3 separate regions of the Homo sapiens genome follow, and all the other regions are linked to region 2. Evidence: fine-mapped expression QTL. A gene starts in region 2. Each other region holds a variant in brackets. All regions are shown on one strand. Distances are between the middles of the regions.

Region 1 (4,142 bases), 47 kb after region 2:
TGTCCTGTACTGCTTTCCTCTTCCTTCATTTGCCCTGTTTGAGAAGGACCATCCTCCAGGTTTCCTGAGAGGGTGCATAGGAAGTTGTGGAGTCTTTACCTGTTTGTCTTTGTAGGGGTGGGTTGCCCCTCCACACCTGTGGGTGTTTCTCGTAAGGTGGAACAAGAGACTTAGGAAAGAAAAAGACACAGAGACAAAAGTATAGAGAAAGAAATAAGGGGACCCGGGGAACCAGCGTTCAGCATATGGAGGATCCCGCCAGCCTCTGAGTTCCCTTAGTATTTATTGATCATTTGTGGGTGTTTCTCGAAGAGGGGGATGTGTCAGGGTCACAAGACAATAGTGGGGAGAGGGTCAGCAGACAAACACGTGAACAAAGGTCTTTGCATCATAGACAATGTAAACGATTAAGTGCTGTGCTTTTAGATATGCATACACATAAACATCTCAATGCTTTACAAAGCAGTATTGCTGCCCGCAGGTCCCACCTCCAGCCCTAAGGCGGTTTTTCCCTATCTCAGTAGATGGAGCATGCAATCAGGTTTTATATGGAGACATTCCATTGCCCAGGGACGGGCAGGAGACAGATGCCTTCCTCTTGTCTCAACTGCAAGAGGCATTCCTTCCTCTTTTACTAATCCTCCTCAGCACAGACCCTTTACGGGTGTCGGGCTGGGGGACGGTCAGGTCTTTCCCATCCCACGAGGCCATATTTCAGACTATCACATGGGGAGAAACCTTGGACAATACCTGGCTTTCCTAGGCAGAGGTCCCTGCGGCCTTCCGCAGTTTTTGTGTCCCTGGGTACTTGAGATTAGGGAGTGGTGATGACTCTTAAGGAGCATGCTGCCTTCAAGCATCTGTTTAACAAAGCACATCTTGCACCGCCCTTAATCCATTCAACTCTGAGTTGACACAGCACATGTTTCAGAGAGCACGGGGTTGGGGGTAAGGTCATAGATTAACAGAGTCTCAAGGCAGAAGAATTTTCCTTAGTACAAAACAAAATGGAGTCTCCTATGTCTACTACTTTCTACACAGACACAGTAACAATCTGATCTCTCTTGCTTTTCCCCACAGTCTTTATGCTAACCTCACATATGCTTAACAGTGCGACTAGCTACAAAAAGCTTGGCTTGGTTGAAAATCATTTATTCCCAGGATTTCAAGGGTATTGTGTCATTTTCTTCTAGTTCCAAGAACTCTTGTGCCTTCCTGAATTCTGACTCTTTACCTATGATCTCTTCTTTTTCTTTGCCCCATTACTTGGGTAATTCTCAATGATGTGTCTTGATATACAACTTCCCTTTCACCCATTGTTCAGAAAACATGACTGTTTGGTTCTAGGAAATTTTCTTGATTTATCTCTGCTGATTTCTCTCATTTCCTTATTTTCTGGACAATTTATTTAGATGTTGGACTTCTGTTGAGTTTTTGTTGTTTTTTTGAGACAGGGTCTGGCTCTGTCACCCAGGCTGGAGTGCAGTGGTGTGATCACAGGGCACTGCAACCTCCACCTTCTGGGCTCCAGCAATCCTCCCACCTTAGCCTCTCTAGTAGCTAGGACTACAGGCGTGTGCCACCATGCCCAGCTGGTTTTTTAAAATTACTTTTTGTAGAGACGTGGCCTCACTATATTGCCCAAGCTGGTCTTGAACCCCTGGGCCCAAGTGATACTCCTGCCTCAGCCTCCTGAAGTGCTGGGAAGGCAGGCATGAGCCACTGTGCCTGACCTGGACTTCTCTTTTGAGATGCAGTCATGGTGGTGGCAAGAACACAGGCTCTGGAGCCATTCTACTGCTGCTCCCTGCCTTGTGATGTTGCCCATCAGTAAAAATGGGGTAACAGCTGTATCCATTGCATAGCACTGGGTTGTGAGGATCCCATGAATGAATGTGTGTAAGAACAGTCCTGGGCACCATGCATCCTGCGTGCACATTATTGCCAAG[G/A]GAAGCTGTCCCCAGAGGGTGGTGCCTGTGGCTTCCCCTGGTGGTGGTGGCAGACCAGCCCCCCACCTCCCATCCACCCCCTCCATTGTGGAGGCCTTGTGTGCCAGGCTAGCCCTAAGAGCACCCACCTGTGTTACTGCTATTCTGTTTTCCAGCTATCTGGTTCTGTCATTATACATTCTGGAAGACTTCATCTTAAAAGCCTATTGAATTGCTCACTTTCCCCTCATGTTTTATTTCTAAGAGCTCTTTCTCATCCCGAGGTTTCTTTCTCTATAGCCCCCAGTTCCTTTTTATTGACTGAGAATGGCATTTTAGTTTTCATTTTTCTTCGGCTTCCTTTATCGTCTCTGTTTCTTCTGAGTCCCTTTTCTTCTTTCTCAGGTGTCTGGTGATCCTGGGCTGTCCAGCTGCATTGAAGAGTGAGATGCTTTTAGTGGCTGGGGCTTATGACCTGGTGAGCTTCGAGGCCAGGGATCTGGCTGGGCCATTCTACTGGGCAACACTCTACCCCTAGGTGCCCTGCCAGTCTTTTCTTTTGAGCTAGGAGCTGCTGCAGAGAGGAGCCCTCTTCTCTGAGAAGCCTGATGGCATGCGGGTGGTCAGACCCAGCCCAGGGGTGGAGGCAGGGGTAGGACCCAGAGTCTCACTTACTCCCAGGCTTTCAGACAGGGCCTTGCTTGAGCAGGGCCTCAGAGCTCCTCTCCTGGAGCTCACGTCTCAGACACTGCAGTGCCTGCCAGCCCCGGTGGGTAGGGACAGAGGTCTGGGGTTTCCTTTCTGTAGCTGTGCTTTCACCCACGACCCTCAGACACTGGCCTCCATAGCCAAGTGGGCTGGAGTAGCTCTCGCTGTCCACCTTTCTTAAGCTCTGCAATATCCCAGCTCTTTGCCCTTGCAGGGTTTGTCTTTATAAAACCCCTTTCCTATAATTTTGGAAGGTTTCAGGAGGGAGGCGGGGAATATTCTGCCCTATTTAAGTAGAAGTGTCTGTATTAAATTCTAAATGTTCCCAGGGTTGAAAGGAGGCCTGCCCGGGATGCCTTGTGGCCTTAGGCAGCTGAAGGTGCCTGAGCTTACAGATGTGGCTTCTTCGGATGACCGAGTTGGGGTCTCGGGACTGGGTGCAGCAGATGGCAAATGTCCAGGACAGGCAGCTTTCCCAGCAGTACTGACAGACACCTTGGGCCATGAAAGCCAGTTCAGGGACTAACGGGGCCTGCGGGCTGCGGGTCTAGCGACTGATGTCAGCCAACCTAGGGTCATCGGTTCCCTGGAAGGAGAAAAAGCTGCCAATTGAACGGGGCCTCCCGGTCCCAGGGATGTCGCGACGCGGGGACGACGCATCTCACGACGTCAGCCTGAAACACGCGGGCCTTTCATCACCCGAGACTCCTCCAGCCCAGGAGGGCCCCGCTCTTTCGCCTGCCTCCTGGGGGAGAGCCTCTGGACGACGCACGCGACAGCGTTTTCTCCAAAAAAGGCAGAGAAGAGAAGCGTAGCAGTGGCCGCAAGGGCGACGGGCGGCGAAGGGTACTACGCACGCCCGCGTCGGCCACGCGGAGAGATACGCCCGACTCGAGTCCCGCGGCGCACGCCCCTAGACGCCCGAGGTGCGCGGGCCACGCCCCTCGCCCGGCCAAGAGCACGCCCCTTCCGTCGCCCCTCCCGGGGGCGTTTACCGTTCCTCCCCGCCCCGGAAGCGCGTTCTTACCTCCTTCCTCGCGAGAGTTCCGTGCACCGGCACCCAGATCGCGCGAGACAGCGGAAGGAGCAAGAGTGGGAGGCGCGCGCGGAGGCCGCGACGGACGCAAGATGGCGACGGCGACCATAGCTCTCGTAAGTGAGCCCCCCCATGAGCGCGGGCGGCCCTCGGCTTGCGGGGCCGGGTCGTCGACCCAGCCTGGGCGCGGAGGGCCTCCCAAGAACGCGGCGGTCTTCCCAGGTCCCGCGCGGACTCCCTCGTGTCCCCGGGTCGCGTGAGGCGGGGGCGGGGCGGGCGCGCGCCGGCGGCCGGCTCGCGGCCTCAGCTTCCGGCCTGCGGACCCCAGCTTCCGGCGGGGCGGGGCGGGGGCCTGGGCGCGGCGTGTGGCCCTTGCGGGCGAGCCTGGCGGGGTTGCGTTCCTGTCCGCTAGGTCCGGCAAGCGGGGGTCGTCGTCCTCCCTTTGCCGACGGGGGTGTGCGCCGTGGTCA
Region 2 (4,153 bases):
GGAGGTGGGTAGAGCCGTGGGCAGTACTGGGCATGGGAGCCCTCTCGCTCACCTCCTGACACCCTCCCTGATGCCCTTCCTTGCTGTGTAGGTGGTATAGGCCCAGGCCTGGGGGCTGGAGGAGTGGCCTGTGGCTCCGGGGACTGCTGGGCTGAAGCACTGGACTGGAGCCCCTGGGGAGGTGGTGGCTCCCAGAAGCCCTGACTGGGAGTGGCCCAGGGACCTGGGGAGTAGGGCAGGCACCCAAGTCTGCCCCCAGAGGTGTCCCCAGAGGTCACTGGGCTGGGGGCCACCACAGGGCAGGGGATCTGGAGTCACAGGAAGACAAAGCCGAGGGAGAGGAGCCAGGGGACAGATGCCAGTGGGTGCAGCAGAGCAGGGCCAGCTCCATGCCACCTGCCTATACCAGGGGGGTGACGGGCAGAAATGGGTGCAGCGGAGCAGGGCCAGCTCCGTGCCACCTGCCTATACTGGAGGGGTGACGGGCAGAAATGGGTGCAGCGGAGCAGGGCCAGCTCTGTGCCACCTGCCTATACCGGAGGGGTGAGGAGCAGACAGGCATGTGGCCCGTCCCTGGGCACACAAGAAGGCTTGGTCTGGCCAGCCTAACACCCCCTTCTTGCAGCGAGGGGCTGGCATACACCCAGGTTTTGTGGCCTGGCAGGGGCGCTGCCTGCAATGGCTCACCGCAGGAAGAAGTGGCTCTGGGGTGTGCTCCAGGCCACAGGCCATAGCCAGCACCACCATGCCTCCCAGCAAGACCACACAGACAGTGTCCAGGCATCCGGTGAGCAGGGCTGGGGATGGATGCGGTTGGCCTGGCAGTGCCTTGGGGAAATGCGGGTTCCACCAGAGCTCCTCTGGGGTCAGGGCCCCGCAGTCGGCAGCAGCCATGCTGTGCGGCCAGTGTGGCAGGTGTGGACAGGGTCCAGGCAGCCTGGGTGAGCAGGTGTGAGTGTGGACCTGGTGGGTGGGTGAGAGCAGAGCCAGGGCAGTGGTCCCAAGCACCCTAACCCCTGAAGGCCTAACCTGTCCCTCCTGCACCTGCGTGGGCGCCTGCAATTACCCTCATGGTGTGCATTGGAGGTGGCTGGCTGGCTCTGGATGATTTTCTGGTCAAGAATGACTCAGGCAGAGGTGGGGGCTGGAGCTTGGGAGAAGGGGGCACTTGTGGGGGTGGGGAGCACCTGAGCCCTCAGGACCTCCAGGACTACGGGACAGAGGAGGAGGGGCCTTGGGGACAGAGGAGGAGGGGCTTTGGGCCCTGTACTTCCGTGGCCCTGCCCACCTGGGATATCGGGGCAGCCAAGGGGAGGGCCCTCCAGAAGATCCATGGAAGGTTCCCGTGCCAGGCTGAGGCTGCCCCCAGGCCAGCCCCCGAGGCTGTGAGCCTCCATGCCCAGTGTCTCTGGCATGCCCCAGCCTTGGAAGGTGGGTGCCAGGATGGGCTTCAGAGAGGGGACCAGGTACTCCCAGGGTGACAGGGAACATTCTCTGTGCCCAGGTGGAGGAGCCAGACCGGGGGGTGAGGCCTGGCACTGCTCCAGGCAGGACATCCCAGCTCTTACAACGTCATGGGGGCAGGGGGGCCTGCCAAGGAGAGCCTTGAAGACCCCTGGACCCAGCAGACACACGACGTGAAGCAGCGTCCCCAGGAAGCTGAGCAGACAAGGTGGGGTCGGGGCTGGAGGCAGGGACACCAGCCCGCACCGCATTAGTGGCTTGTGGGGATAGAAACCGCCGCTCTGGCCGGTCCGCGTTTCACTCCAAACTCCTTTCCCAAAAAAAAAAAGCTGTTCTGAAGGGCACAGGACGCCTCCGCGCCCGCCCTGCGTTCCTTCGCGGTGACTCCCTGCTGGGGACGAGGGGAGGGTCCCGGCTGCCCAGCCGCCGCCCCTTGCCCGGGGTGCAAGCGCCAGGCCCGGGCCGCGCGGGGTTTCCGGCACCTGCCCGCCCCGCCCCGCCCCGCGTCGGGGCCCCGACCTGGGCGCCGCCCTAGACGGGGGCGGGGCCTGTGGGGCTTGAAATGCGGGCGGAGCGGGCGCGCGGAGACACTGCGGACCGAGCGGCGAGCGGGCAGGTGCGGCGGGTGCGGCGGGTGCGGCGGGTGCGGCGGGTGCGGGCAGGTGCGGCGGGTGCGGGCAGGTGCGGCGGGTGCGGGTGCGGGCTCGGGGCCGGGCGGGGCGGCGGCCGCCGAAGGAAACCGGATCCCCGCTGGAGCCGCACGCCGAGGCCAGGGTAGGGGCGCGGCGGCCAGCGGGGTCTTGGGCTCTGGCCGGGCAGGTTTCCCGCCCTGGGCAATTTGAGCTCCGAGTCCGAAGTGGCGCCCCTGAGTCCCGGGCGCCGGTGAAGAGGAGGCGCCGGCCCCGAGCCCTCACGGGAGAGGCGGCCAGGGGCGGGGGTCTCGCAGGCCCAGCGGTTTTCCCTGCAGCGAGGACCGCCCGGGGCACGCTCTGCAGGGTGGGGAACGCCCAGGCCAGGAGGCAGCTAGGCCGACAAATTGAGAGGGGTGACTCCTGGCAACATTGCCGGGAGGGAGGCGTCACGGATCCGGGGAAGCTGCCTGCTGTTGGGTGAGCGGTCCCAGGGGTGGCCACTCCGGGTCAGGTAAGCGGTCACACGGTCGCCTGGAGACCCGTGGGAGGCAGAGGCAGGAAGGGCCCTGTTCATCACTTGGGCCCAGGGCTCTGCTTCCCTGCCCTGGGCCCCCGCTGCACTGTGCCAAGCTTGTTATTGGGGCCACTGATCTCTGATCATGGTGCAGGTTGCAGGTGGGTGGGGTCTTCCCACAAGGGCACACAGCCGGGCAGAAGCTAAGGCTGCTGCCTCCTGTGTGGGCCCAGGCAGCTGCCAGGGTCTGTCCTGACCTGACTCAGGCAGGCGGCTGCAGCCTCCCCAACCTTTGTCCCAGGCTGCGGTGGGGGCCTGCCGGGCAGTCTGGTGACAGACAGTGACCTCACCCAAGAGATGCAGACCCACCCTCCTCAGGAACGGCCCTCCACCACTTGGGGCCTGGGGGCCACCTGAAGTGGGGAATCCACAGGAGGGGCCCTTTGTGCCTCAGGCTCCGGGGAAATCTGCTCGGCCTCCTCCCCACCCCATCACCCTAACCCTGACCCCGTGCTCTCCTAGGCAGCAGCCACCTCCTCCAGATGCCCCCACACTCGAAGCTGCACCCCCTGCCCCCCCTCGCTCCGGACCCTCTGTCCAGCTGCCCTCCCAGGCCCCACATGGAGTCAAGACACCCACTCCCGGGCCTTCCTCCTGCCAAGCCTGGGAAGGGGCAGGGCCCAGGGAAGGGGCAGGGCCCAGAGGGGTTCATACCAGGCCCAAGGTCAGGAAGAGATAGGGAGTGGTGCAGCCAGCCACAGGCCGCATCTCACGCATGGTGCGGGGCATGCACTGGCAGGCACACTCACACACGCAGGGCAAGCCTGCCCCCGACTCCCTGCTCCCAAGCGCCCTGTCTCCAGCCTTCCTCCCTGGATCTCCTCTTTGTTTGGGGAACTTGAGCCACTTGCCTGAGCTTACGAGGCCCGCTTAGCACGCGGCCTGTCTGGGCTGGCGGCCTGTGCGCAGGTCAGGGGCCCGCCCAAGGTGCTGTCCCCACCCTCACTGGCCCTGCCCCGCCCTCGCTGGCCCTGCCCCACCCTGGCCCGCACTGCCCCTCCCCCTTGCTGGGAAATCAGGTGCTCCTCTCATTTCCTCACCGCCATCCCTGGCCGGATGTCAGGGGACAGGGCAGGGCCCTGACCCCCTAGAAGCCCCTCGTCTGGCCTGGATGCCATAGTGAGTGGCTGCCTTAGGCTCACAGATCCTGGAGGGTCCTGGAACGAGGCGTGCTGGAGAGGGCCCAGCCCTAGGGGAGGCAGGTGCCAGTAGAGGTGGACACAAAAGCGCCCAGGCTGGGTTCCCAGAAGCAGAGTCTGTCTGAGGCAGGGGTAACCGGGAGTGGTCTCAGGATGGCCTCAGGAAGGGAAGGGAGGAGGAAGCAGGTGGACGAAGGAGAAGCTGGCCTGTCCTGCCGTCTCATGTACCCCCCAGAAGCAGATCTGGACAGCCCCGTAGCCACCCCGGTCAGGCTGTGCCCTTGAGCCTGGCCTCTTCCTGGGGAAGTGCAGAAACAAGTTTTGCAGGGTGGACCTGGCCCCTG
Region 3 (4,153 bases), 25 kb after region 2:
GGAGTGCAGTGGCACGATCTCAGCTCACTGCAAGCTCAGCTTCCTGGGTTCACGCCATTCTCCTGCCTCAGCCTCCCGAGTAGCTGGGACTACAGGCACCTGCCACCATGCCCGGCTAATTTTTTGTATTTTTAGTAGACACGGGGTTTCACCATGTTAGCCAGGATGGTCTCGATCTCCTGACCTCGTGATCCGCCCGCCTCAGCCTCCCAAAGTGCTAGGGTTACAGGCGTGAGCTACCAGATATTTTTAATGATTTAAAAAGTGAAAACAGCATATTATGGTTCTCTAAATATATACCATTTCCATTGCTCTTTCTGCATTCCTGAAGTTCCAGGTTCCCTCTGGTATCATTCCCTTCAGGCTAAATACCTTTCTTTAGCATTTTCTTTTAAAGTTGGCAGGTGAAGCACTTTGGGAGGCCAAGGCGGGCAGATCACTTGAGGTCAGGAGTTCAAGACCAGTATGGCCAACATGGTAAGACCCTGTCTCTACTAAAAATACAAAAATTAGCTGGGCGTGATGTTGCTTATAATCACGGGAGGATGAGGTGGGAGAATCACTCGAACCCAAGAAGTGGAGGTTGCAGTGAGCCAAGATCACACCATTGCACTCCAGCCTGAGCAACAGAGTGAGTGTCCACCTTGGCTCGTGGGTGGGAACTCATGAGCGCCCACTCCAAGCTGTGTCCTCTCAAAAAAAGTAAATAAAGTCTGCTGGTGAGGAATTTTACACATATAAATACATAAAATATTTGATTTGAGTTTATCCCATCTGGAGTTGGCCAAACTTTTTGATTTTCATAAGTTTATATCTTTCACTAAATTAGAGAACTTTTCTGCCATTATTTCTTCAAAATAAATGTTTTATGTACTAATATCTTTCCATTCCCCTTCTGGAACTTCAAATACAAAAGTGATAGATGTTTTGATATTGTTTCACAGCTCTCTGAAGCTTTGTTCATTTTTTTAAAAAATCTTTTCTCCTGTTTTTCAGATTAGATAATTTCTATTGATCTCTTTGTAAGTTTACTGACTCCTTCCTCTGTAATCCCCCTTTTGCTATTGAGACACTCAGTAAGCCTTTTTTTTTTTTTTACTTTGAGACAGAGTCTCACTCTGTTGCCCAGGTTGGAGTGCAGTGGGGCGTGATCTCAGCTCACTGCGGAGTCCGCCTCCTGGGTTCAAGTGATTCTCATGCCTCAGCCTCCTGAATAGCTGGGACTACAGCTGTGTGCCACCATGCCTGGCTAATTTTTGTACTTTTAGTAGAGACAGGGTTTCTCCATGTTGCCCAGGCTGGTCTCAAACGCCTAGACTCAAGCGATCTGCCCGCCTCGGCCTGCCAAAGTGCTGGGGTTACAGGCATGAGCCACTGTGCCTGGCCAGCTTTTTTACTTCAGGTGATTTTTTACTTCAGGTAATATGTTTTTCACTTCTACCATTTCCACCTGCTGAGAACGTCTGTCTTTTCACTCATTCTTGGGGTGTCCACTCTTGCCGCGGGGAGCATCGGGCTGGAATTGCTGCTGTGAAATCTTTTCCTGGTCCCTCCAGCATCTGAGTCCTGGGGTTCTGCCAGCAACTGTCTGTCTTTTCCCCTGAGACCGGATCCAATTTCCAGTCCTTGGCATGTTGGGTAATTTGGGGTTGTATCCTGGATGTTTTAAATAATCAGATGCGAGGCTCTGAGCCCTGCGAGAACGCGCTTGAGAATGTTGGCATTTTCACTTTGGCGGGCACTCATCCCGGCTGGGTCAGGCCACAAGCCGTATCCCAGCCGCTGTGTGCAGTGGATCCGTGTTGGCTCAATTCTCAAGGCTGTTGCTGTGCGGCCTGTTCCCCACACGTGCTGCTCAGCTCAGGCAAGCACCGAGCTTGTGTTGTTTCATGCTCAGCGTGGAGGCCCCTCCTCCAGGTCGCTGCTCTGTGGGGTTCCCATACACTCAGGCTCCTAGGAGGAGTCCATTTAGAAAGCCAGGGTTTTTCTCAGAGTCTTAGTTCCTTGTGCTGTCATCCATTTCACACGACTTGGGCCCTGCTCGGGGCAACACAGCAAGAGAAAAGACAGGGAAAATAAGAGAGGGACCTTGCACACACACGCTCTGGACCACAGAGCCCTGTGCCCAGCTCCTCTGTCAATACAGGTGGAATCTCGTGCAGGATCGCAGGGGTCTGTGATGCCACCAAAGAGCAGGCCGGGACAGGGTTAGGAGAGAAAGGAGAGGGAAGTGGGGGTTTCTCCTACGCACTCTTATTTGCAGAGGGAAAGGCGGGTTTGTATTGGGGTTGTCGGTCTTTGCACCCACGGCACAGTTGTGAGACACCCCCATCCTCAGATCAAAGCCGCACATA[C/GAC]AGCTGGGGAAAAACAAAACAAAACAAAACAAAAACAGTAAACCTCCATGCCAGTTGTTGGTAAGTTTTGAGTTTCCTCCCCAGCCAGCTGCTACTGTTAGCGTTTCACAGTCCTCCAGGAGTCGCTTTTTATATTCTGTCCAAAGGGAGAGAGGAGCTGTAGTGGCTGTGCTCCATCTCTGCCAGCCCAGAAGTTTCCAGAAGTGCTCTTCTGATTTTACAGGTGAAGAACCGGAGTCCTGGGGGTGTAACAAGCCCAGGTCCTCAAGGCAAGGGTGGGAACTCACGAGCGCCCAACTCCAAGCTGTGTCCTCGCCCCGCAAGCTTGTGCTGGTCACTGCTGCCCTGTGCCCCCCGGATAGAAACACTGCTGGAGGAGAAGCCTTTCTCAGAGCCCTGGGGAAGGGGATGGTCAGGCCACCTACACTCCTGGCCCTGCTCCACTGGCTGCACTGGAGTGGCATCTGGATGGACAGCAGCCGGCTGGAGACTGGGAGGAGGCCTGGGTGCAGGAGGCTGGGGCGCTGGGCAGCATGCGCCGCGGGGCAGCAGGACGCAGGGGCCTCCCAGCGGGACTCGCACGTGGCACTCTCTGGGGCAGGTGGTGACGGGAGGCAGACACACTCCAGGGGAGTCCCTCAGTCACCATGCTCCAGGTACTTGCGCCTCACGTTTAGAACCAGGGTAGATTTGGAGACTCCTGGGATCTTTTGACAAAATTTCTCTCCAATCTCTAAGTACAAAGGATGCTCCTACAAAGGGCCAGATGGCAAGTCCTGGGATGGAACCCCTGCCCTTGGTGCCACCACTGCTCTTTCATAACTGTGGGCTCTTCCGAAAGTGACTTCATGGCTCAGTGCCTCAGTTTCCCTTTTTGTAAAATGGTCATCATGGCTGGGCGCGGTGGCTCAGGCCTGTAATCCCAGCACTTTGGGGGGCCGAGGCGGGTGGATCATGAGGTCAGGAGTTCGAGACCAACCTGACCAACATGGTGAATCCCTGTCTCTACTAAAAATACAAAAATTAGCTGAGTGTGGTAGGTGCCTGTAATCCCAGCTACTCAGGAGGCTGAGGCAGGAGAATCACTTGAACCCGGTAGGCGGAGCTTGCAGTGAGCTGAGATCCCGCCACTGCACTCCAGACTGGGCGACAGAGTCTCTGTCTCAAAAAAAAGAAAAAAGAAAAAAAAAGGTCATCATAATAACACTTAACTCACTCAGCAGTTGTGAGTACAAATAAAATTCAAATCCTGGAAGTGTTTGAAAAACATCCACAAGAATGACAGAAAGGAGAAGCACACTGTTGTTTTTGTTAGTTTTAACATTCGTGTGGCTTTTTTCTTCCTATCCGAAAAAGAGATTTTCTCCCCGATCAGCCCAAGTCATCCTTCTAGTGGCAAGAAAATTAGGAATGTTATGGAAAGAATCCCAAAAGAAAAAACGAGTGAATATTCAGATTCACATTTTTCTTTTTTCTTTTTTTTTGTTTTTTTCTTTTTTGAGATGGGGTCTCGCTCTGTCACGCAGGTTGGAGTGCAGTGGTACAACAGCTCACTACAGCCTCGAACTCCTGGGCTCAAGCGATCCTTCCACCTTAGCCTCCCAAGTAGCTGGGACTACAGGTGTGTGCCACCATGCCCAGCTGATTTTTTTTTAAGGACTAGAAAGTCAAAGACAAATGCCCAGCAGATTTTGTAGAGCTGGGGTTTCGCCATGTTGCCTAGGCTGGTCTTGAACTCCTGAGCTCAAGCAATCCACCTGCCTCAGCCTCCCAAAGTGCTGGAATTACAGACATGAGCC

What was found.
Region 1: its variant is fine-mapped to the expression of EPPK1 in whole blood (TOPMed, PIP 0.93).
Region 3: its variant is fine-mapped to the expression of EPPK1 in whole blood (TOPMed, PIP 0.97).

Annotation. Positions count from the first base shown.
Region 1 is chr8:143,828,926-143,833,067 of GRCh38, reverse strand. It overlaps PUF60 (poly(U) binding splicing factor 60), which reads left to right and starts at 3,753. Exons shown (of 12, transcript NM_078480.3): 1 at 3,753-3,788. The coding sequence starts at 3,765. It overlaps LOC107986985 (a long non-coding RNA gene), which reads right to left and starts at 3,788. Exons shown (of 3, transcript XR_001746138.2): 1 at 3,664-3,788; 2 at 3,030-3,222; 3 at 1,137-2,359. It also overlaps a transcript of NRBP2 not described here. RefSeq lists enhancers at 2,462-3,661, 2,982-3,681 and a silencer at 3,466-4,035. The variant G/A (reference allele first, on the strand shown) is at 1,950.
Region 2 is chr8:143,876,365-143,880,517 of GRCh38, reverse strand. EPPK1 (epiplakin 1) reads left to right here and starts at 2,051. Exons shown (of 2, transcript NM_031308.4): 1 at 2,051-2,080. RefSeq lists an enhancer at 699-1,341 and a silencer at 1,908-1,997.
Region 3 is chr8:143,851,209-143,855,361 of GRCh38, reverse strand. No RefSeq gene overlaps it. Among named protein-coding and RNA genes, the nearest start is that of NRBP2, 12 kb to the right of the region's middle. The variant C/GAC (reference allele first, on the strand shown) is at 2,355.